Linked DNA regions of Homo sapiens: regions 2, 3, 4 and 5 are each linked to region 1. The links come from fine-mapping of genetic effects on gene expression. A gene starts in region 1. Each other region holds a variant in brackets. All regions are shown on one strand. Distances are from middle to middle.

Region 1 (4,010 bases):
GTTGATTCGCCCTGCCCTCAAAAGACATGTGTCACACCAAGCAACTAACACCCATGTTGTAACTGCCCCAGAGGAAAGACGTTCAACGGCTGAGGAGACCACAGCGGCAACTAGGTCACTTCCTATTCGAAGAAAAAGGAGGAGATGCCATCTGGCAAATTCGAGGTAGGGAGACAAATCAATCGATGACGTTGCGAGGAGACAGAGGTCAAACGGGATCTACTGACATGACAGGGCGTTGAAGGGAAGGAAAAGTTGAGGGAAACGAGGAAACTATTTCCATAGGAGAATGCTTTTTCACTGAAGTCGAAACTGGCTTGGTACTGACGCCCAGCAGGGGAAACTCCCCGGACACTCACAGACATTCATCTGGTTACTTGCAGGAACATCTGCCTTTCCTGGTGACACCCTCTGCCCTGCAGTCTTCATTTTCCCTGGATAGCCCAGCGTCATTTAAATACTCAGAAGCCTCTCTGCCTTTCTATGCTGTTGTCTGCAAAGAGATGAACGGACCTGTGCAGACGGCTGGCCAGTGACGCCGGGATCTCTAGGTAACATGACCCAGTCACGGTGTCACAGACAGGCGGACCAGGAGGAAACCAGAGACACAGATGGATTCCAGGGAAAGCCAGCGTTACAGAATTAAGAAAAGCTGGGGAAGAAAAAGGAAAACGAGAATTTCCAAAACTGCCGCTTTCCCAGCAGAAGGGAGATGAAGTTGTCACTTTGGCTGCGAGGGTGCAGAGATGGAGGAAGGGTTGGGGGTGGGGGTGGTACCGCAAGGGAGAAAAATAGCTATAGGCTTCATCGCAAAGGGGTTCATGCAGAATACGCGAGGCCGGCGGCTAACTCTAAGATTGCTCTCTCGTTATTCTGTGCCTGGTGCAAAACCCACTACTCAGGGGACAACACATCCCAGCATAAAGAATGAAATCATTTCAGCAGCGAGGGCTGGGCCCGCTAGACCGTGAGGCTCCGGCGGCTTCCGCCCGTTGTCTGGTGCACCCCACCTTCAGAAGCACCTGCCCAAGATGGGAGCGACTGAAGAGAGAGGCCCCAGAGACTCTCCGAGGGGCGGCACCCCCAGATTCCCGGCCGGCGGACCAAGTTCGCAGCTCTCAAAAGACATGTCTCACACCAAGGGCCCCGGGCGGGGAGAGGAGAGAAGAGGGGAGGGGAGCAGGGCGCTGCTCCAGGGCACCTGCCTGAGCTCGGGCGCGATCCCCGGCCACAGGCGCGCGGGGTCACCGCCGGGGGACCGGGACTCAGCCCTCGGAAAGTCCGCGCCAACCCACAGGGCACCCGGGCGCCCGCTCTCCGACTGCTGTCCCGGCTGCCGACTCGTGGCCCACGTCCGCCTCAGTTTCCCCGCCCCTCACCTGCTCGAGACTTCGGAGACTGTCCCGGGGGGCGCCCAGCAGCGCGCAGAGCTCCAGCAGCCCCGAGGGCAGCGACAAGTGCGGCGACGCGGCCTCCGCCATGGCTGCCCGCCGCCCGCCGCCAGTACCGCACTCGGGCGCCTCAGCCGCGCAGTCGCCCGCAGACCCCTGGGGACCAGCCGCGCCGCCTGGGGGCCGGGGGCGCTGCGAGCGCCGTCTGCGGGGCGGGGCTGGAGGCGGGGCCTGGAGGGGCGGGGCCCGAGCCGAGGCGGGGCCTGGAGAGCCCCAGAGGATACCGCGGGGAGACAGAGTTTGGGGGCGGGGCTTGACTGGGCGGGGAGGTTCTGGGCGGGGCCTGGAGTGGCGTGCCCGGCCCTAGGGACCGGGACTTGGGGGCGGGGCCGGTCCTAGGGCGGGTGCTGCTGGAGACCCGCGCGCGGTCGTCATTTCCTAACCCGCCTGCGGGCCCTGGCGCGTGCGCGGCGTCGGAGCAAGCGGCCCCTTCCTTCGGCCCCGCCCAGCCCCGCCGGCCGCCCGCTCCCTGGGGAACCGAGGGAGGAATGGGCGGGGTCCTCAGGTGCCCGGCGACGTCATCCAGCCCCCAAGGCTCCAGGACGCAAAGGGTCCCCTGATCTGGCAGTCCCTGGACCTACCCTGGAGAGCGTGGGGGGACAAAGGCCGGACGCGCCGCCCGCTGCCGCCTCCAGGAAGCCCTCCCTTGCCAGGACAGTGGAGTTGGCCGGGTGTGGACAGCAGGAAGGGCCGGCGGGAAGGGGGGGTGGAAAGAGCCACTCCTGGTTAATAACTCTGCGGGGTTAACCTAGGGCCGGCCATACTCAAGTACGGACTTGAGTAAAATTCAGCAGGAAAAGGAGCAGGGTGGGCGCCGCTAGAGGGAGGCTTCAGGACTGAGGGTCAGAGGCCCAAGGCCTGGCAGGGCCCTTCCCTGGTCAGCTCCAGGCTTGGCCTGATGCCCGGTGGGCCACGGGCCTCTTCCAGCCTCAGGCTGACCCCAGAGAAAGAGGACAGCCCACAAGCCCGGGAGGCCGGCTTGCTGCCTGGTCATTGCTGCAGAGCCTGGAGGGGGCCTGCGCTCAGTCCCCGCTGACCGTCCCCTCCCTTGACCCTGCCATAGCCATCTGTGTAACCCAGGGGAAATTATTCCAAAGGGACTTCCACTTCTGATAATCTATGATTCTATTTTCTAAAAAACAAAACTCTAAAATGCTTAATGTCAAACATCTGTCATCAGCTGAACAGGAAAAGGAACAGTAAGTACAAAGCAAGGCAACATCAGAAAAGGGAGCCCTGAGGAATTTCTCCCTCCTTCCCTGAGCCGGGTGAGGCCGTGACTGCAGCCTGACTCACAGGTTTTATTTCACTTATTAACCTAAAGATGGTGAGGATCTGCTGGTTCTCCCCCAGGCCTGGAGGCTGCCTACCATCGGTGGCTCTCATCGGTGAGCTGAGGCCACAGTTGTTATAGTCTCTGACTTCAAAAGAAAGACCGATTTCATGAACAATTGCCTGTCTCTCTCGACGGTGGCCTCGGTTTTTTGTTGTTGTTTTTCTGTTTGTTTTTGAGACAGAGTTTTGCTCTTGTAGCCCAGGCTGGAGTGCAGTGGCATGATCTCAGCTCACTGCAACCTCTGCCTCCCAGGTTCAAGCGATTCTCCTGCCTCAGCCTCCAGAGTAGCTGGGATTACAGGCGCCCACCACCACACCTGGCTACTTTTTGTATTTTTAGTAGAGATGGGGTTTCACCATGTTGGCCAAGCTGGTCTCAAACTCCTGACCTTAGGTGATCCACCCGCCTTGGCCTCCCAAAGTGCTGGGATTACAGGCATGAGCCACCACACCCAGCCTTGGTGGCCTCATTTTTAGCAGCCTCTGCAAAGCACACAGCCTGAATCCGTCACCTAGAGTCCCCAGCATGCAGGAGAGGCGCTCTCAACCCGGGCTGGAGCCATGAGCCACTCCCTGAGGGCACACAGGGCCTGAGTCTGGCTCCTGTGTGTTGCTGTGTGACAGGTGAGCTCAACAGCCCTAAGCCGTGACTTCCTGAGGGGCAGTGGTCAAGATCCAAGGGAGGTAAACACATGGCAGCTCTTGCCACCAGGACCCAGTAAGGCTCACGCGAGAGCAGGTCTCTGCTGTCCCTTTATCACCAAGAGGCCAAATGCTTTAAGGAAGAGAGCTCCAGCAGTGCACAGAGCTTGCAATCCACTCCTTTATGCCCCCTTTTCCTCCTCCTTAAAACCAGATAATTGGGCCAGATGACCTCTGAGGGGCTCCCAGTTCTGCACTTTTTAATACGCTCCCGTCTCTCATGCCACAGGTCCTTCCAAAGTGCCTACGGAAAGCTTTGTCCCATCCTTGAAAAATTGCTAATGGGTTTGGAGATACGAGGTGGAGATGACTAGCAATCAAACTCAAAGGTGGAAGTCACATCGAGGCAGATGAGCAGATGAGGGGACCTAGAGAAGAAGAGAGGTGCAAGGAGAGCCCAGCCAGCAGGAACATCTGCCCCAGTAGGCAGCACTGCCCCACATCAGAGTCGAGGAAAGCAAAGCTCGGATTGGATAAAAGAAACTTGCAAACACGGTCAGTGCTTACTGCATGTGGGCTCAG
Region 2 (4,142 bases), 76 kb before region 1:
TTCCTACAGGCAGAGTGAGTCATCTCTGTCCTCTGGCACCCCACTGAGGGCTGTGACTGGCAGTTGGCAGTGGAGGAAATGAAAGGGAGGGGACTTGCCCCGGGTTACCCAGCTGCTGGGGTTTGAATCCGGAAGCAAGTTTTCTTCAGTGGCTCTTCTGATTTGTGGGGCGTGGAAGGGGTCCCAGCAGGGCCGGGGTGTGGAGTAGAAGGGATCTGCTCAGACGAGGGAGAAAGGGACGAGGGACTTTGATAGTTGGGGGGTGTCACCACGGGGCTCCTGGATGGGACCTGCGCAGTTGGGGGCCCACGGAAGCCAGGAACCTCCGGACCTGGGGACAAGTCCCAGCTGGGCCACTCTGGCGCTGTTACCTGGGCGCCCTGCTGCAAAACGCAGGCTGATGGCCCTGTGGTGGGGACTAAAGGGATGGTCGCTGTCCTTCGGCCAGACGGGAGTGGGGCGGTGAGCCAGGGCCGCCCAGACTCTGCACCCAAGACCCCATTTGCCATCTGGGACCCTGCCTGGCGCCCTGGCTGACGCGAGCCCGCGGCATCCCCTGTCGTCCACCCGGTGCGTGCGGCCCCGCCATGTCCCGCCCCGCCGTCCCTGGCAGGGAGGGGCTGTGGAAGCCTCCGCCCACCACGGCACGCCCGGCACCCCCAGACTCGTGGCTGGGCTTTGGGAACACAGGTGGAGGCCCAGGGCGCGGAGGGCGGCGGGACCCAAAATCCAGGCGCTTCCCTCCCAGGTGGGGGAGGCAGCGAGCGAGAACAGCTTCCTGCAGGGGACGCCCGGCCACCGCGCCGCAATCCCGCCGCGGCCACAGAGACGCTCCCCGCCCCTGGACAGGCCTGAAGCAGTGGGAGCCCGAGACGCTGGGAGCCCCGCACCCCGGTGGCCGCCCGGGGCCCAGTGCCTGTGGGCGGGGAGGCGGAATCGACACCCCACCAGGACCCCCGCCCTCGGGTGGTGGGCGGCCGTGACGGCGGCGCAGGGGCCAGGGGCGTGTGTTCCCCCGCCCGCCTCACCTGGCGCGCGGGTGCCTGGCCCACCTGAGCGAGCACCAGACCTGCACCCCGCCAACCAACGCTCCCCCCGAGCGACCAGGCTAGGAGGGAACACCCGGTGCTGCGCCCCTTTCCTGGCCTTTCCCCAGGATGCTCACCAAGGATGAGCCCTGCGTGCCCAGCGGCCATCACGGGGCAAGAAGAAGTCGCCAAGACAGAGAATCAGTGACCCAGGCCTCCCAACCCGGTCTTTGTTCGTTTTTGAGACGGAGTCTCACTTTGTCACCCAGGCTGGAGTGCAATGGTGCGACCTCAGCTCACCGCAACCTCTGCCTTCCAGGTTCAAGCGATTCTCCCACCTCAGCCTCCCGAGTAGCTGGGATAATTGACGCCCGCACCCGGCTAATTTTTGTACTTTTAGTAGAGGTGGGGGGGTCTCACCATGTTGGCCAGGCTGGTCTCGAACTCCTGACTCAAGTGATCTGCCCGCCTCGGTCTCCCAAAGTGCTGGGATTACAAGCGTGAGCCACCGCGCCCGGCCCGTCTTCACATCTTTGTCTCCACACTACTAATGTTAATTTTTTTTAAACGAAATTTGAACCACTATGCAGAGTTTTGCAACCTACATTTTTTGTTGTTGTTTAGCAAAATATTTTCAACTTTCCTTGTTCCTGCATGTAGACCTACTGCATTCTGCAATAGCTGTTAGCATTCCAGGGTGTAACTTCTTTTTTCTTTTTTTTCTTTTGAGACAGGGTCTCCCTCTGTTGCCCAGGCTGGAGTGCCCAAGGTTGATCGTGGCTCACTGAAGCATCCTGGGCTCTGGCCATCTTCCCGCCTCAGCCAGTTGAGTAGCTGGGACTGAAGGTGCACGCCACCATGCCCTGCTTTGTTTCTTTTTTTTTTTTTTTTTTTGGTAGAAATAGGGTTTCCCTATGTTGCCCGGGCTGGTCTCAAACTCCTGGGCTCAAGCAGTCCTCCTGCCTCGCTCAGCCTCTCAAAGTTCTGGGATTACAGGTATGAGCCACTGTGCCTGGTCTTGTTTGCCCATTTTTAAATTGAGCTGTTCATCTTGTTACTGATTTGTAAAAACTCTATATATTTTGGATAAAAATTCTTGTCAGATATAGTATTGCAAATATTTTTTTT[TC/C]CTTAATGATATATTTTGATAAAGTCCAATTTATCCATTTTTTCTTTAGTGTTTAGCTTTTTTGTGTGTTCTCTCTAGAAAAATCTTTGCACCAAGGTGGCAAAGATGTGCTTGTTTCTAGAGCTTCTAGCTTTACATTTAGGTGGGTGAGCCACCTTGAGTTAAGTTATGTGTAGTGAGGTAAGTGTTGAGCTGCTTCCCTTTTCCATACGTTTATCCAGTCATTGCAGCACCATTTGCTGAACAGACTTTCATTACCGAATTGTCTTGGAATTTTTGTTTTTTATAGTCAACTGACTTTATGCTTGCGCATCTAGACCCTACGTTGTGTTCCATTGATTTAATTACCTATATTTATGTCAAATCCTACCGTTTTAATTATTGTAGTTTTTTAGCAAAGCATAAAGGTATATGAGTCCTCTGGCTTGAGCCATCCCACCTGGCTTGATCTTCTTTTTGAAGGTTATCTTAAATATTCTACTTTGCATTTCCATATATGTTATAATCAAATTCTCAATTTCTTTTTTAAAAATTATGTTAGCATTTTGATTGGGATTAAATTGAATCTATCAGATCAATTTGGAGATAACTAACATCTTTACAATATTTAATCTCCCAGTCCATGAAAATGGTATATCTTTTATTTCAGTCTTTAACATTTTCTCTCAGCGATGTTTTTGAGTTTTCAGTCTTTTACGTCATTCATTAAATTTATTTCTATTGAATGTTTTTTATGCTACTGTATTTTAACAGTTTACAAGTTGTTTGCTGTTAGAATATAGTAATGCAATGATTGTATATTGACCTTGTATCCAGTACCTTATAGAAAAAACTAGAAAAATATTCTAGTTTTTAAAATAGATTCTTTAGGATTTATATAAATGGCCTTGCTGTCTTCTAATAAAGATTGTTTTGCCTCTTCCAGTACAATCATCTTTTTCCCCTCAATGTTCTGCTGAACCAGTACAATGTTTATGCCCCCCCCTTTTCTCCCCCTATTGCCCTGGCTAGAATCTCTAGTACAATGTTAACAGGAAGGGGGCCCCCTCTCCCTCTCCCTCTCCCTCTCTCCCTCTCTCCCTCTCTCTCTCTCTCTCTCTCTCTCTCTCTCTCCACGGTCTCTCTCTCTCTCTCTCCCTCTCTCCCTCTCTCCCTCTCTCCCTCTCTCCCTCTCTCTCTCTCTCTCTCTCTCTCTCTCTCTCTCTCTCCCTCTCTCTCTCTCTCTCTCTCCATGGTCTCCCTCTCCCTCTCTCCACGGTCTCTCTCTCTCTCTCTCTCTCTCTCTCTCTCTCTCTCTCTCTCCCTCTCTCCCTCTCTCCCTCTCTCTCTCTCTCTCTCTCCACGGTCTCCCTCTCCCTCTCCCTCTCTCCACGGTCTCCCTCTCCCTCTCCCTCTCCCTCTCTCCACGGTCTCCCTCTCCCTCTCTTTCCACGGTCTCCCTCTGATGCCGAGCCGAGGCTGGACTGTACTGCTGCCATCTCGGCTCACTGTAACCTCCCTGCCTGATTCTCCTGCCTCAGCCTGCCGAGTGCCTGCGATTGCAGGCGCGTGCCGCCACGCCTGACTGGTTTTCGTATTTTTTTGGTGGAGACGGGGTTTCGCTGTGTTGGCTGGGCTGGTCTCCAGCTCCTGACCGCGAGTGATCCGCCAGCCTCGGCCTCCCGAGGTGCCGGGATTGCAGATGGAGTCTGGTTCACTCAGTGCTCAATGGTGCCCAGGCTGGAGTGCAGTGGCGTGATCTCGGCTCGCTGCAACCTCCACCTCCCAGCCGCCTGCCTTGGCCTCCCAAAGTGCCGAGATTGCAGCCTCTGCCCAGCCACCACCCCATCTGGGAAGTGAGGAGCGTCTCTGCCTGGCTGCCCATCGTCTGGGATGTGAGGAGCCCCTCTGCCTGGCTGCCCAGTCTGGAAAGTGAGGAGCGTCTCTGCCCGGCCGCCATCCCATCTAGGAAGTGGGGAGCGTCTCTGCCCGGCCGCCCATCGTCT
Region 3 (4,142 bases), 31 kb after region 1:
AGCCACCGTGCCTGGCCTCATCATCCCATTTTCTAGGGGAGGAGGCTGAGGTCAGGGAGGTAACACGGCTTGCCCGAGTCAGTAGCCAGGCCAGAACAGAAGGCCTCCTGACTCTGGTGTCCTTCCTGTCCTGGCCCAGCCACTCCAAAGGAGAAGAAGCTAGTGAAGGAAATGTTCTCTGCAATGGGACAGTGAGGAACAATTTGGGAGTAAGCAGGGCTTTCTGGCTCCCCTAAAGCTGCAGTGCCAGAACCTGTCTGTTCACAATGTCAACCAATCACCTGTTAAACGTTTAAACACTTAAACCCTCGGGGACTCAGTTTTCTCATCTGTAAAGTGGGTGGGGTGGGGGTGAGCTGCTGTCAGCCATCAAGACACCCCCAGCTCACCTCTGTGATTCTAGCAGTGTCCTCTCACCTGTTTTGTTTGTTTTTAAAACAATTCCATTAAAAAGTGAGCAAAGGATCTAAATAGACAAATAGACATCTCTCAGAAGAAGACACACAATGGCCAACAGGTATATGAAAAAAATGCTCAACATCACTATCATCAGGGAAATGCAAATCAAAACTGCAATGTGATATCATCTCACCCCAGCCAGAATGGCTGTTATTAAAAAGGCAAAAAATAACAGATGCTGGCAAGGATGTGGACAGAAAGGGATTCATCCACTGGTTGGTGGGAGCATAAATTAGTACAGCCATTATGGAAAACAGTAAGGAGATTTCTCAAAAAACTGAAAGTAGAACTACAAACCATCCAGCAATCCCACTACCAGGTATTTAAAGGAAAGAAAATCCATCTATTAAAGGGATGCTTGCACCCGCATAAACATCAACTGCAGCACTATTCACAACAGCAAAGATACGGACTCAACCGGAGTGTCACCAACAGATGAAAAGATAAAGAAAGGGCGGTATATTTACACAATGGAATATTATCCAGCCATAAAATGAGAATAAAATCCTGTCATTTGCAGCAACGTGGATGGAACTGGAGGTCACTGTGTTAAGTGAAATAAGCCAGGCACAGAAAGACAAATGTGGCACGTTCTCACTCGTACATGGGAGCCAAAAAAAGTGGATCTCATGAAGGTGGAGAGTAGAATGTTGGTTAACAGAGGCTGGGAAGGGAAAGGAGGGTGGGGGAATGAAGAGAGGTTGGCTAACGGTACAAACATACAGTTAGATAGGAGGAATAAGTTCTAACGTTGGATAGCAGAGTAGGGTGACTCTGGTTAACAACTACTGTATATTTCAAAATAGCTAGAAGAGAAGACTTGAAGTGTATCCAACACATACAAATGATGCATACTCAATGCTGGGCGCCAGTGGCTCATGCCTGTAATCCCAACACTTTGAGATGCTGAGGTGGGTGGATCACTTGAGGTCAGGAGTTCGAGACCAGCCTGGCCAGCATGGCAAAACCCCTTCTCTACAAAAAATACAAAGGGCATGATGGCAGGCACCTGTAATCCCAGCTACTCAGGAGGCAGAGGCAGGTGAGGCTCTTGAACCCAGGAGGCCGAGGCTGCAATGAGCCAAGATTGCACCATTGCATTCCAGCCTGGGCGACAGAGTGAGACTCCATCTCAAAAATAACAACAAAAAAAGGCCGAGTGCAGTGGCTCACGCCTGTAATCCCAGCACTTTGGGAGGCTGAGGCAGGTGGATCACGAGGTCAGGAGATCCAGACCATCCTGGCTAACACGGTGAAACCCCGTCTCTACTAAAAATACAAAAAATTAGCCGGGTGTGGTGGTGGGCGCCTGTAGTCCCAGCTACTCGGGAAGCTGAGGCAGGAGAATGGCGTGAACCCAGGAGGCAGAGCTTGCAGTGAGCTGAGATCGGGCCACTGCACTCCAACCTGGGCGACAGAGCGAGACTCCTTCTAAAAAATAAAAAATAAAAATAAAAATAAAAAATTCCCTTTCCTCCCCAACAAGGAGGGCAACATCAGAAGTGCTACCTGAGCCCCTGTACAGGCTGGGAGGGAAATATTTCTGTAGTTTGAGAACCTTCTGGATCAGGCAGGAGGCCTGTGGAAGCGAAAGAGGAAGCGTCCTTCT[G/T]TTTACCTCCCTCTGGTGGCGTCACACTTCCTTGCTTTGTGCATAACCTGCAGGCCGGCGGCCCACCCGTCCCCTGGGAGCACCTGGCTGGCTCAGAGGTCTCTGCAAAGCAGCGCAGAGCAGGCTTTGGCTGCTCCCCCAGAAGCAGGAGCCACTCCTCTGGAGCCCGTGGTGCTCTCACAAGCGTGTCTTTAGTCCGGCCACCCTTGGCAACGGCGGCACAGAGGTCAGCCATCAGTGGCCAGCACATCCCACGGGGTGTTCCTCGGTGCAGGAGAATCAGGGGTGGCTGCAGCCAGGTCTCGGAGTCCTCCGAGAGGGCAGGGAATTCCAGAAGGCACAGGTTCCAGCCCCAGTGCCTGGTTTGAGAACAGTGTCTTAAACAATAGAATTCTTTGTTTCAAAGAACGTTTTAGGCAAATCCAAGTGAAGCTGGGTGGGCGTGGGAGCTCAACCTTCCACGTCCCCTCCTCCTGCCCCTGGGACTTATAGAGGAACTCAGGGCCTTGGAAACATGGGGCTCCCAGGTCTGGAGCAGTGGGGCCTCCCTGCAGTCTCTCTTGAAACGGTTGATGGTAGCCACAAGGGTCATGAGAGTAGCAGTTCCCAGGATGTTCCGCTACGTACTCCACACCCGTCCTCTGGTTCACTCTGTCCAGGGTGCCCTGGGATGCAGGCTGACCATGTCACCCACCCCTCTGGCCTCTGCCCCTACCTGTGGGGTTTACAGAACTCAGTGGAGTGGCATAGACGCCGCAGGTGCTCAGAAAGGACACATGAGAGAAAGCTCTTAGGACAACGCAGGGGCTTAATAATGACATGCTCAAACGAGGGTCCCATCTACCCTGGGAGTAAGGACATCTGAGTTCTGGTCTGGCTCTGTCCATAACTAGCCTGGAACCCCCACCCCAGGGCCTCAGTCTCCCCACCAGTGAAATAAGAGCCTGCCCATGGGGCTCTGCGGGCCCTCCCGGCGCTGACACTGCAGCTCTGCCACCGTCAGACGCAGCTGGCTGGGCCGAGTAGCAGCCTGGGCCCGGGAAGGGCTGCTTCTGCCCTCCGTGTGGCTGTGGGCAAGGCACTTCCCTCCCAGCCCCAGGTTCCTCCTCGGTCTGGGGAGGGTGTGATCACGTGGTCAGACACCATCAGGCCTGGGACCATCCCGCACCCCGGCTCTGGCCACAGCCAGGGTCACAGGAACTCTCGAGAGAAGGAGCTCCAGCTGGGACAGCAGGCAGGTCTGCAGGAAGGCCCGAGGTCAGGCTGTGAGACCCAGGGTAAGGCTGGGCAGGAAGCAGACTCCTGTGAGGACCTCAGGCAGTGGCCATGCTGGCCTCTCACAGAACTAACACCTAAGGGCAGGAGGGAGCGTCTGCAAAGCTCAGACCCTCCAGGGAGTTTCAGGCTTTTCTCCATTTCTAATCTGTGCGTGGTTCTCGGATCCAGCAGTTCTCAGCTGGGGGAAATTTTGGGCCAGGTGCGGTGGCTCACACCTGTAATCCCAGTGCTTTGGGAGGCCGAGGCAGGCTGATCGCTTGAGGTCAGGAGTTCAAGAGCAGCCTGGCCAACATGGTGAAACCCCGTCTCTACTAAAAATACAAAAATTAGCTGGGCATGGTGGCAGGGGCCTGTAATCCCAGCTACTCGGGAGGCTGAAGCAGGAGACTTGCTTGAACCCTAGGGGCAGAGGTTGCAGTGAGCCGAGATCACACGACCGCACTCCAGCCCGGGCAAGAATGAGACTCCATCTCAAAAAAAAAAAAAAAAAAAAAAAATCAACTGGGGTAAATTTTGTTCCCAGGGAACATTTGGCAATTTCTCGAAATGCTTTTGATTGTCACAACTGTTCGGGGTCTGGGGGTGCCAAGTGGCATCAAATGCGTGGAGGCCTGGGATGTTGCTCAGCACCCTGCAGTGCACGGAACGGCCCCTCACCAGAGAATGATCCCCAGATGTCAATGTCAAGGTTGTGAAACCCTGGTCTACCCCAAATCCCGTCCACTCTCCGAAGCCCTGCTCCGATTCCACCTCCTCCAGGAAGACATCCCTGGTCCCCAGTGAGTCGTTAGTGACT
Region 4 (4,142 bases), 63 kb before region 1:
CCGTTGGCACCAACCCTGCACGTGCCTGTTAGGAGGGGAACCCTGAGAGGCGAAGGCAGGAGGGCACGAGGGCGTGCGGCTGGCTCTCGGGAGCATGGGGATGCGGCCAGGGCAAGCGAGACCTGCCGGGGATGCTGGGGATGGCGGGCCCTCCACCCTACCTGCTTCTTCACCCGGATCATGCAGTTGATCTCAGAGCAGTCCTCGAGGGGCACCCTCTGCGGGGGCTGGGCCAGGTCCTTCAGGCTCCAGATGTAAACCTCGCTGCGTCCTGCACAGGCCGCCCACAGCTGCTCCTCCTGAAACGCAGGGCACGGTGTGGGCTATGGGCCCCGGGCCACGCACATGCTGGGCCCACAGCCCCTGCTGGGATACCTCAGGAAGGAGCTGGAAGGCCAGGAAGGAGGTACTGGTGTCTTTGAAGTTCTCCTCAATCTTCAATTCTTGATGGAGGGATCCATTCATTTTCATGACCATGATGCTGTTACCTGTGCCTGTGGAAGGAAGGAGCTAGGATGGGGCCAGGCAGTGTCATTGGCAACATAAGACGCCAGCACCAGAGCCGGCCTCACTGCTCTTTCCAGCGTGGTGATGGGGGGGATCACCACGTGCCACCTGGCGCCTGAGGAATGCACAGGTGAGGTCTACTGGGAAAAAATGCAAGCTAGAACCCTGGGTCTTTAAGAAGAAATGAGGCTCACCAGAAAACGTAAATATATGGGCAGTTTCTTAATTTTTCTTAACTTTCTTGAAAGATCATTGACTGCTTAAGCAAAAATCTTAAAGAATGTATTATTGGGAGTACCACACTTGATACTGTTGTAAGCTTCTTACCCTATCCATGAAGCAGTATCATAGTTAGTTAAGGAGGAGGGTGATCGGTTAAGGTTGCATATTGCAATTCTTAGAGCAACCACTGAAAAATAAAACAAAAATATAATGCTTAAAAACAGTAAAGAAGATTAAATTGAACATAAAAATATTCAATACAAAAGAGGGCAAGAAAGGAAGAACAGAACAAATAACAGATGAGGGGAAGAAGGACAACCGTTGGCTTGCACCCAACCACGTCGCTACCGGCCCTGAAAGTGAGCGGAACAGTGGGCAGGGGCCTGCACAGGCGCTGCTCCCAGGGAGGCGTCAGCGGGCACCGGGCACACGACAGAGTGCTCAGCACCATCAGCCATGAGGGAGCCACAGATCCAAACCACAAGACGCCACTTCACTCCCGCGGGGACGGTGTCAGTAAAAACAGGTGAGAACCAGTTTGGGTGAGGATGTGAAGAAATGAAGCCTGAGACTGCGGGTGGCGTGGAAGCTGCTGCCGCCACTTCAGAAAACAGTCTGACGGTTTTTCAAACAGTTAAGCAGAGTGAACCCAGTGCCCACTTGGGGCAGGGGAAGGATGAGCATGTTCCATATGCACACAATGGACTATTACCCTGCAAGAAGGAACGAGCTATTGATATTGATACTCAGAACGTCAGCGATGAATACTATAAACATCCTGCTGTCTGAATAAAGCCAGATACAGAAGAAGGCCTACTGTAGAGTCCATTTGTAGAAAGTTCTGTAAAAACCAAATTCAGATGACAGAACTAAGAGCACTTGTATCCCCTGAATGGCGGCACGGCCTGGAAAGGGGCACAGACGCTTTCAGCTGTGACGGAAACGCTGCGTGTCTTGATTTGTTTCATGGTTATGTAGTTTAGATGTTTGTCAAAACACAACAAACTGAGCACTTTTTGGTGAGCTTTACTATATGTGAAACACGCCTCCATTACAAAAAAGAAAACATATTCCCAGCCGTCACTCATGTAATCTGGCACATGCCGAGGAAGACCTCAAAGTGCCGGCAACTTCTGTGCTCTGGGGCGTCCAGAAATGCAGACACAGCCGCCAGGCAAAGCACCTGCTCCTCCCATCGCCCCCCTGGCAAAATCCCCAGTCTGGGTCCACGGAGAGTCCCAGGCTGCAGCTCTGTGCCAAGCAGCCGAGGGGAACAGAGCACGGGCTCGCCAGCTGCCCCCAGGTGTGGAGACGTGACGCACACAGAGGCCTCCCAGGAGGAGCAGCCATGACTCCGGGGGACACATGGGCCAGCTTCAACCCCAGAGCAGGGCACAGCAAAAGCCAAGGTGAGGGACAGGAGAGCAGTGGTGCGTCCAGGCAAGACAGGCATCCCGTCAGCC[G/A]CTGGGTAGAAAGGCAGAGGGAGGCCTGGGGAGCCCCCAGGAGCAGCAGTGCAGGTGGAGTAAAGGTTGCTGCGACCACAGAAAGGGAACCCGAGTTTAAAATAAAGACTGGAAAGGCGTGAAGCAAAGGAAAGAGGCTTTCTGCTCTCGTTCAGCATCCTTTTCCCAGAGCAGGGAGGTAGGGTGCCCGCTCTGATGGCAGGGGCCGGACTTACAGCACCACAGGCGGCCGCCGTGCAGTCTGATGGACGTCAGGCCACCTCGCGGCAGCTGGAAGCGGCTGGTCACCTGCAGTGTGCTCACATTCCACACCAGCACCATGCCGTCCATGCTGCACGAGTACACGTTGCTGGGGGCACAAAACACACACACACACCTTTAACTTGGGCCCCTGAAAACACTGTGCACATTTTAACCCAAGAGAGAACCAAGTCGCCATGAGAGAAAATGTGCTCAACACGGATAACCTGCAAACATGATAATAACATGCAAACATAATAACCTGCAAACGTAACCTGCAAACATGATAATAACATGCAAACATGCTATGAATGCAGCCACAGCCAGGCTTGGCTCAAATGTAACTGACTCGGCAGGAAAAGGCGGGTTTCTCGGGACGCCCACCTCTCCCACCACCGCGGGCCGCAGGCTCAATGAGGTGTTGTCATAGAGCCATGACATGACCATGAACTGAAATGGAACCTCGTCAGCGGTCCCCGTTCACACAAGGGACCAGGGAGCCAGCACGATCCTCAGAGCTCTCGGGTGACATGGGCTGGCTGCAGGTGCAGGCGGCTGTGGGCGGGGCTGGGCTCGAGCCTGCACCCTGCGCCACCCCTGAACCTCCTGAGCCAGCTTTGCTTCCAGACTAGCACCTCCCTACCCACCCCAACAGGGCCTGACACAGGCGCCCCCGACACTAAGTCAGGGGAAAAAGGAGTGGGGAGTGTGGCCCCTCACCCAGGGCTGGGGCTGCCTGGACCAAGTGGGCAGCCTTGTGCACTTTCCCCACCATGAGCCTCTGCTCAAGGAGACCCCACCTCCTCCTCCCGTCTCCCTGGATGCCCCGTGTCCAGTGCTGCTCCCACTGTGGGAAACAGCAGCGAACAGGCAGCCCAAGGCCAACACTGAGCACTCAGGCGATTATCAGGCGAGTCCAGGCTTCTGACACCATGGCTGGTGCACCTCTGGGAGGCTGTGCCCTCTCGGGGCTGCCCCATGCCACAGTGCCCACAGCAAGCTCAGCAGGAAGGCCGGGTGTGGTGCCTTCATCACCACGCTTGGCCCACACTGGTGTCATGGGTTCTCCGCACCCGTGAGCAGAAGCAGACCGAGGACACCACCCAGCTTTCCTCGTTCTAGATCCACTTCACTCTGTACGCCCCGCCTGGCCCCTGTGGGCACAAGACTTGGGAACCCTACCCGCTGTGCCTTCTGCCCACCCACAAGCCAAACAGTCCCTTCTCCCCAGCAGAGCTTACTGCACCTGGGTGCCTCCTGTCCGTCCTGCACAATCAAATCCGTGACACTGGAGCAGTGGGCTGTGAGCTGCTTGTTGCAGGACATGCTGTGGACGTTGATGATGTAGATGACGGAGTCTTCCGAGCCAACCCACACCTGGTTCTGGTCGGCCATCACCATGCAGTTCTAACAGGAGGCCACGGGAACGTGAGAAATCAGTCAGTCTCGATACTGGTGAAGTCATATTCTATACATTTACTGCACGTGCTGAATTAGCGGATATGGAACCACTGCTCCTAGGGGACACGCCGGCTCAGGGTCCTGGGAGCCTCTGGCCCTGACGTTGTCATCCACCCATCAGTGCATAACCTTGTTCTCCGCGTGCTCTGTTCACAGACACCTTATTGACTACGTATGATTGATTCATTAACACGAAACCCACGGCCGCCAGCACTGTCACTGCGGCCTGAACCAAGCTCATCTCACACA
Region 5 (4,142 bases), 32 kb before region 1:
GCTTAAACTTGGGAGGCGGCAGTTGCAGTGAGCCCAGATGGCGTCACTGCATTCCAGGCTGGGTGACAGAGTGAGACTCCATCTCAAAAAAAAAAAAAAAAAAAAGGCCACTCAAATTTCCATTTTGAAATAATCACGCAGAGTACGATCAAGCCAGCAGGCTCTGTGCTAACCACCTCCCAAAGCGGAAGGCCCCTCAAGAACAGAGGAGGCCAGCATCGGGGGTGCCTCCTTCACTGCTGGACTCAGGGAGCAACCAGCAAGAAGGAGAGGAAGAACACTGCCAGAGAAAAGGAGAAAGGGTGGGAGAAGCCCAAAGGCTTTTGCATTAAAAAGTACTTATCTATGAAGCTATCATTTTTGCCATACATTCCTTAAGTGACTGCCTATTTAGGCCAGAAATAGCAACTCAATACCTGTACTGTATCACACTGAAATAAACACACTTGACTTGTCCACTTAACCAATTCCAGCTCAGGTGCTGGGGAAGCAATAGCATGCAGGAGGTAGCTAATGCTGTAATTAGTGGAATGAGGAGAAAGAAAACTTGCTAACAGGCACATCTTGAGTGCCCCACCCGTCCTGTGGCTCTCCCATAGATGGTTTCATGATCTAGCTTATGAGTCACATCAAAATGGCCTGTCTGTCCCTCACTAGCCCCTGGATGCAGGCCTCTCGGGACAGAGCCCTCCACGGACTGAGCCAGAGCCCGGAGCCAGCACAGGCCAGAGTGACAGGTGCTCCCTGCAGGTTTATCAGATTTGCGTCTTCCTAGAGGGCTGTCCCAAAACAGCCACCTGCAGGGGGTCACCAGGAGAGGGCGTTAGTAAGGTAGTAAGGCACAGTCACCAGCAGGAGAAGCTGTTAGGAAGGCAGTCACCAGCAGGAGAGGGTGTTAGGAAGGCACAGGCAAGGTCAGAATCAAAAGAACAAACTCCCTGTAACTGCTGATTGTTACAGTCACAAGAAAAGCTTTGGCAGGGGGCGGGGACCACTCATGTTTGCCAGGCAAATGGTACTAATGGCCTGCCCTCTGGGGCGGGGTGCACGATCCCCATAGAATGGATGGCTGGCTGGTTACCTCCTCATGGACACTGGGAATGTTCTCTCACGTACCTGAAGATGCTCACGAGCAGCTGCAGGGTGGTCTGCTGTATCTGGCAGTTGAGTTTCTGCTGCCAGGACCGCCGGTGGGCTCGGCCCTCCTTCAGGTCTGTGCTGGAGAGGAGGTGGGCGGCGTGCAGCTCATGGTGGAGCTGGAGGCTCTGCACCCTGGAAGGAGGCAGACCGAAGCTAGCTCAGCCCCAGCAGCACTGGCCACGGCCGCTCACCAGCACACAGCCCACCAGGTAAATGAACACTTCACAGACACAAATACCGATCAATAATTTGAGGGGCGGGTGGTCATTAAAGTACATCACTGGGGCTGGACGCGGTGGCTCACGCCTGTAATCCCAGCACTTTGGGAGGCCGAGGTGGGTGGATCACCTGAGGTCAGGGAGTTCAAGACCAGCCTGGCCAACATGGTGAAACCC[A/C]TTCTCTACTAAAAATACAAAAATTAGCCAGGCATGGTGGCAGGCACCTGTAATCCCAGCTACTCGGGAGGCTGAGCCAGGAGAATCGCTTGAACCTGGGAGGTGGAGGTTGTAGTGAGCCGAGATAGTGCCGCTGCACTCTAGCCTAGGCAACAGGAGCGAAACTCTGTCTTAAAAAAAAAAAAAAAAAAATACATCGCTGGAAGACTGGAAGAGTGGATTCACCTCCACACATGGACTCACATGGGCCTCGACTTGGACTATGCACACTTCACCCAGGCCAGCTCATTCCTGTCCTGCCACTGCAGTGAGGGCACTCCCCCTTCTAGGTCACCAAAGGCTTCCAGGTCAGGCTGCCTCTTGACGGGTCACTCATGGCTGCCTAGAAGGGACAGTCACAGCTCCCCCATGGCTTCCCCTCTGTACTTCCTGCCCAGGCAGGATCAGATGCCCCTCTGTGCCCTGCAACAAACGTCCCGGGTGTCACCACTCTTGGCCCACCAGGAGATGGCCAAAGGCTCACCCCAGAGGGCCTCACTCAGGGACAGGAACTCACAGATATCTGTCAACCCTGAGCCACCATGAGATTGGACCCCTGGCCTTCCCAACACCACTAAAGGCTGCATGTCTAGAGGGACGTTAGAAATATACAAAATAAACAGAACCAACGCATATCTGGTCACACATATTTCTTGAGCACCTACTGTATGCCATACACTGATCTGTGTGCTAGGGATGGGTGGTGGACACAGGCCAAGCCCCTGCCTGCGTGGCACTTCCATGTGAGTGGGAGGAAGTAGGAAAAGAGACAAATCAAGAAAACAGGAGATAATGAGGACATCAGGCAGAAACGCACATCACAGCGATGGGCTAGAGAGACACGGCAGTCAGACTGAGCGGGCAGAGAAGAGTTCTCCCAGGAGACGACCTGGAACCGGAGATGTGACAGGAAGACACAGACGGGGGACTTGATGGACCCAGTGCGGCCCAGCATGGTAGGGGGAGTGGGAGTGTGGGCCAGGTCAGCATGGCCGGCAGGAGCCAATCTTCTCTGTGATGGGAAGGGTGCACTGGCCACAGGCCCCTGCCGCTGCCTGACCCTCCTGGAGGCAGGGACAGGAAAAGGGAAGAACGGGATTCTGGGTGGAGTGGCCCACCAGGGGATGGTAGCAGGCAGGCACGCGGTGCCAGGGCCAGGACCAGGGTTCTCTCCAAACGTGCTGAGCAGCAGCTGCTGAGGGGCCAGCCCAGCCCTGGCTGACCAGACTCACAGGACTTGGGCAACTACCCTTGCCTAGATGGGTCTCAAGAACTGTGATGTTTACCAGCACCAAACTGGCCTTTCATCTGAAAGAACACGCAGAATGCCAGGGAAAGAAATTTTGATGACTTTCCTCATGTAAAAAGGGCTATGATGCCACCTGGAGTGGCAGCTTCTCTTACTGCATCTTCTGGTGCAGGGACAGTGGGGTCTGAAGGAGATGGCCATCCCCTCTCCCGGAACCCCATGCCTCCCTCACCCAAGCACGCAGCCAGCATAGCCCTGAGCTGGCGACCCTACCCCTGCTGCCCAGGGAGAGAGCGACTTCCATCAGAGATGAAGACAGCAGTGAAGAGAGTGACCAAGAGCCAAGGGTGCTGGGGAAAGCTGGGCAAGGAGGGGGCTGCCCCGTCCCTCCCAGCCACACGCTCACGTGCAGAGAGATGCATATTGTACTCCAGAGCCCCTTGAGCAGGCACCCCAACGACACCGCAGCCCACAACCTGTATCATGAGCTCAGAGGCCTCTTATAGACAGGTCACCCATGGCACAGGGATTAGCTTGTGTTTACAAAAGAGTCTCCAAAAATGAGGCTGTGGGAGACACGACATCCTGCATCCCCATTCTGGGGGATCTAGCCAAAGCGGGGCCCAGCCTCCGTATCGTGTGTGTTTCTATTCCGGAATTCTAACAAGAAGATGAGGATGCAGGCAGAATCCTACCTTCCTGGGAATGCTCAGAGCTTCAACACAGTCTCACAAAGCTCAGTTCTATTACAGAATGTCACGCTCTAAAAGTCAAGGAAGCAGCTGTGGCTTACCAGAAAGTAACTGAGATGATTGGGAAAGCACGTGTCTCCTTCAAAGTTCGCGCAGAGGACAGTTGCCAACAGAACAGCTGCTCAGGTGCCCTTGGCTGGGGAGGAGAGCCCAGCGATTCCACAGCCCAAGCAAGCAGAAACCAGCCTTGCCTGTGCAGGACCATCGCTTGGCTTTAAGGCCTTAGGGAATTTTTTAAGATGCAAGAACAATAATAAAGGTAGTTCTCCGACTGGGCGCGGTGGCTCACGCCTGTAATCTGAGCACTCTGGGAGGCCCAGGCAGGTGGATCACCTGAGGTCAGGAGTTCGAGACCAGCCTGGCCAACATGGTGAAACCCTGTCTCTACTGAAAACACAAAAATTAGTCGGGCATGGTCACAGATGCCTGTAATCCCGGCTACTCCGGAGGCTGAGGCAGGAGAATCGCTTGAACCTGGAAGGCGGAGGTTGCAGTGAGCCAAGATCACGCCACTGCACCCCAGCCTGGGTGACAGAGCAAGACCCTGTCTCCAAAAAAAAAAAAAAA

What was found. PIP is the estimated chance that this variant, and not a neighbour inherited with it, causes the effect. A credible set is the group of variants that fine-mapping cannot tell apart.
Region 2: its variant is the best candidate, but not a certain one, in a credible set for the expression of DENND3 in T cells (TOPMed, PIP 0.65).
Region 3: its variant is the best candidate, but not a certain one, in a credible set for the expression of DENND3 in whole blood (TOPMed, PIP 0.79).
Region 4: its variant is the best candidate, but not a certain one, in a credible set for the expression of DENND3 in whole blood (Lepik 2017, PIP 0.89).
Region 5: its variant is the best candidate, but not a certain one, in a credible set for the expression of DENND3 in whole blood (INTERVAL, PIP 0.75).

What each region holds. Positions count from the first base shown.
Region 1 is chr8:141,126,179-141,130,188 of GRCh38, reverse strand. It overlaps DENND3 (DENN domain containing 3), which reads right to left and starts at 1,600. Exons shown (of 23, transcript NM_001352890.3): 1 at 1,380-1,600. The coding sequence starts at 1,481. DENND3-AS1 (DENND3 antisense RNA 1) reads left to right here and starts at 48. Exons shown (of 2, transcript NR_183310.1): 1 at 48-165; 2 at 3,718-4,010. RefSeq lists enhancers at 509-1,339, 2,173-3,004 and a silencer at 1,195-2,054.
Region 2 is chr8:141,202,584-141,206,725 of GRCh38, reverse strand. LOC105375785 (a long non-coding RNA gene) reads left to right here and starts at 3,367. Exons shown (of 4, transcript XR_007061124.1): 1 at 3,367-4,142. RefSeq lists a silencer at 486-895. The variant TC/C (reference allele first, on the strand shown) is at 2,157.
Region 3 is chr8:141,094,662-141,098,803 of GRCh38, reverse strand. No RefSeq gene overlaps it. Among named protein-coding and RNA genes, the nearest start is that of DENND3, 32 kb to the left of the region's middle. RefSeq lists an enhancer at 2,778-3,777 and a silencer at 4,023-4,142. The variant G/T (reference allele first, on the strand shown) is at 2,069.
Region 4 is chr8:141,188,683-141,192,824 of GRCh38, reverse strand. It overlaps DENND3 (DENN domain containing 3), which reads right to left. Exons shown (of 23, transcript NM_001352890.3): 19 at 3,679-3,839; 20 at 2,408-2,541; 21 at 376-494; 22 at 162-299. Among named protein-coding and RNA genes, the nearest start is that of DENND3-AS1, 61 kb to the right of the region's middle. RefSeq lists enhancers at 1-199, 200-700. The variant G/A (reference allele first, on the strand shown) is at 2,193.
Region 5 is chr8:141,157,762-141,161,903 of GRCh38, reverse strand. It overlaps DENND3 (DENN domain containing 3), which reads right to left. Exons shown (of 23, transcript NM_001352890.3): 9 at 1,117-1,272. Among named protein-coding and RNA genes, the nearest start is that of DENND3-AS1, 30 kb to the right of the region's middle. RefSeq lists enhancers at 3,219-3,338, 4,129-4,142. The variant A/C (reference allele first, on the strand shown) is at 1,536.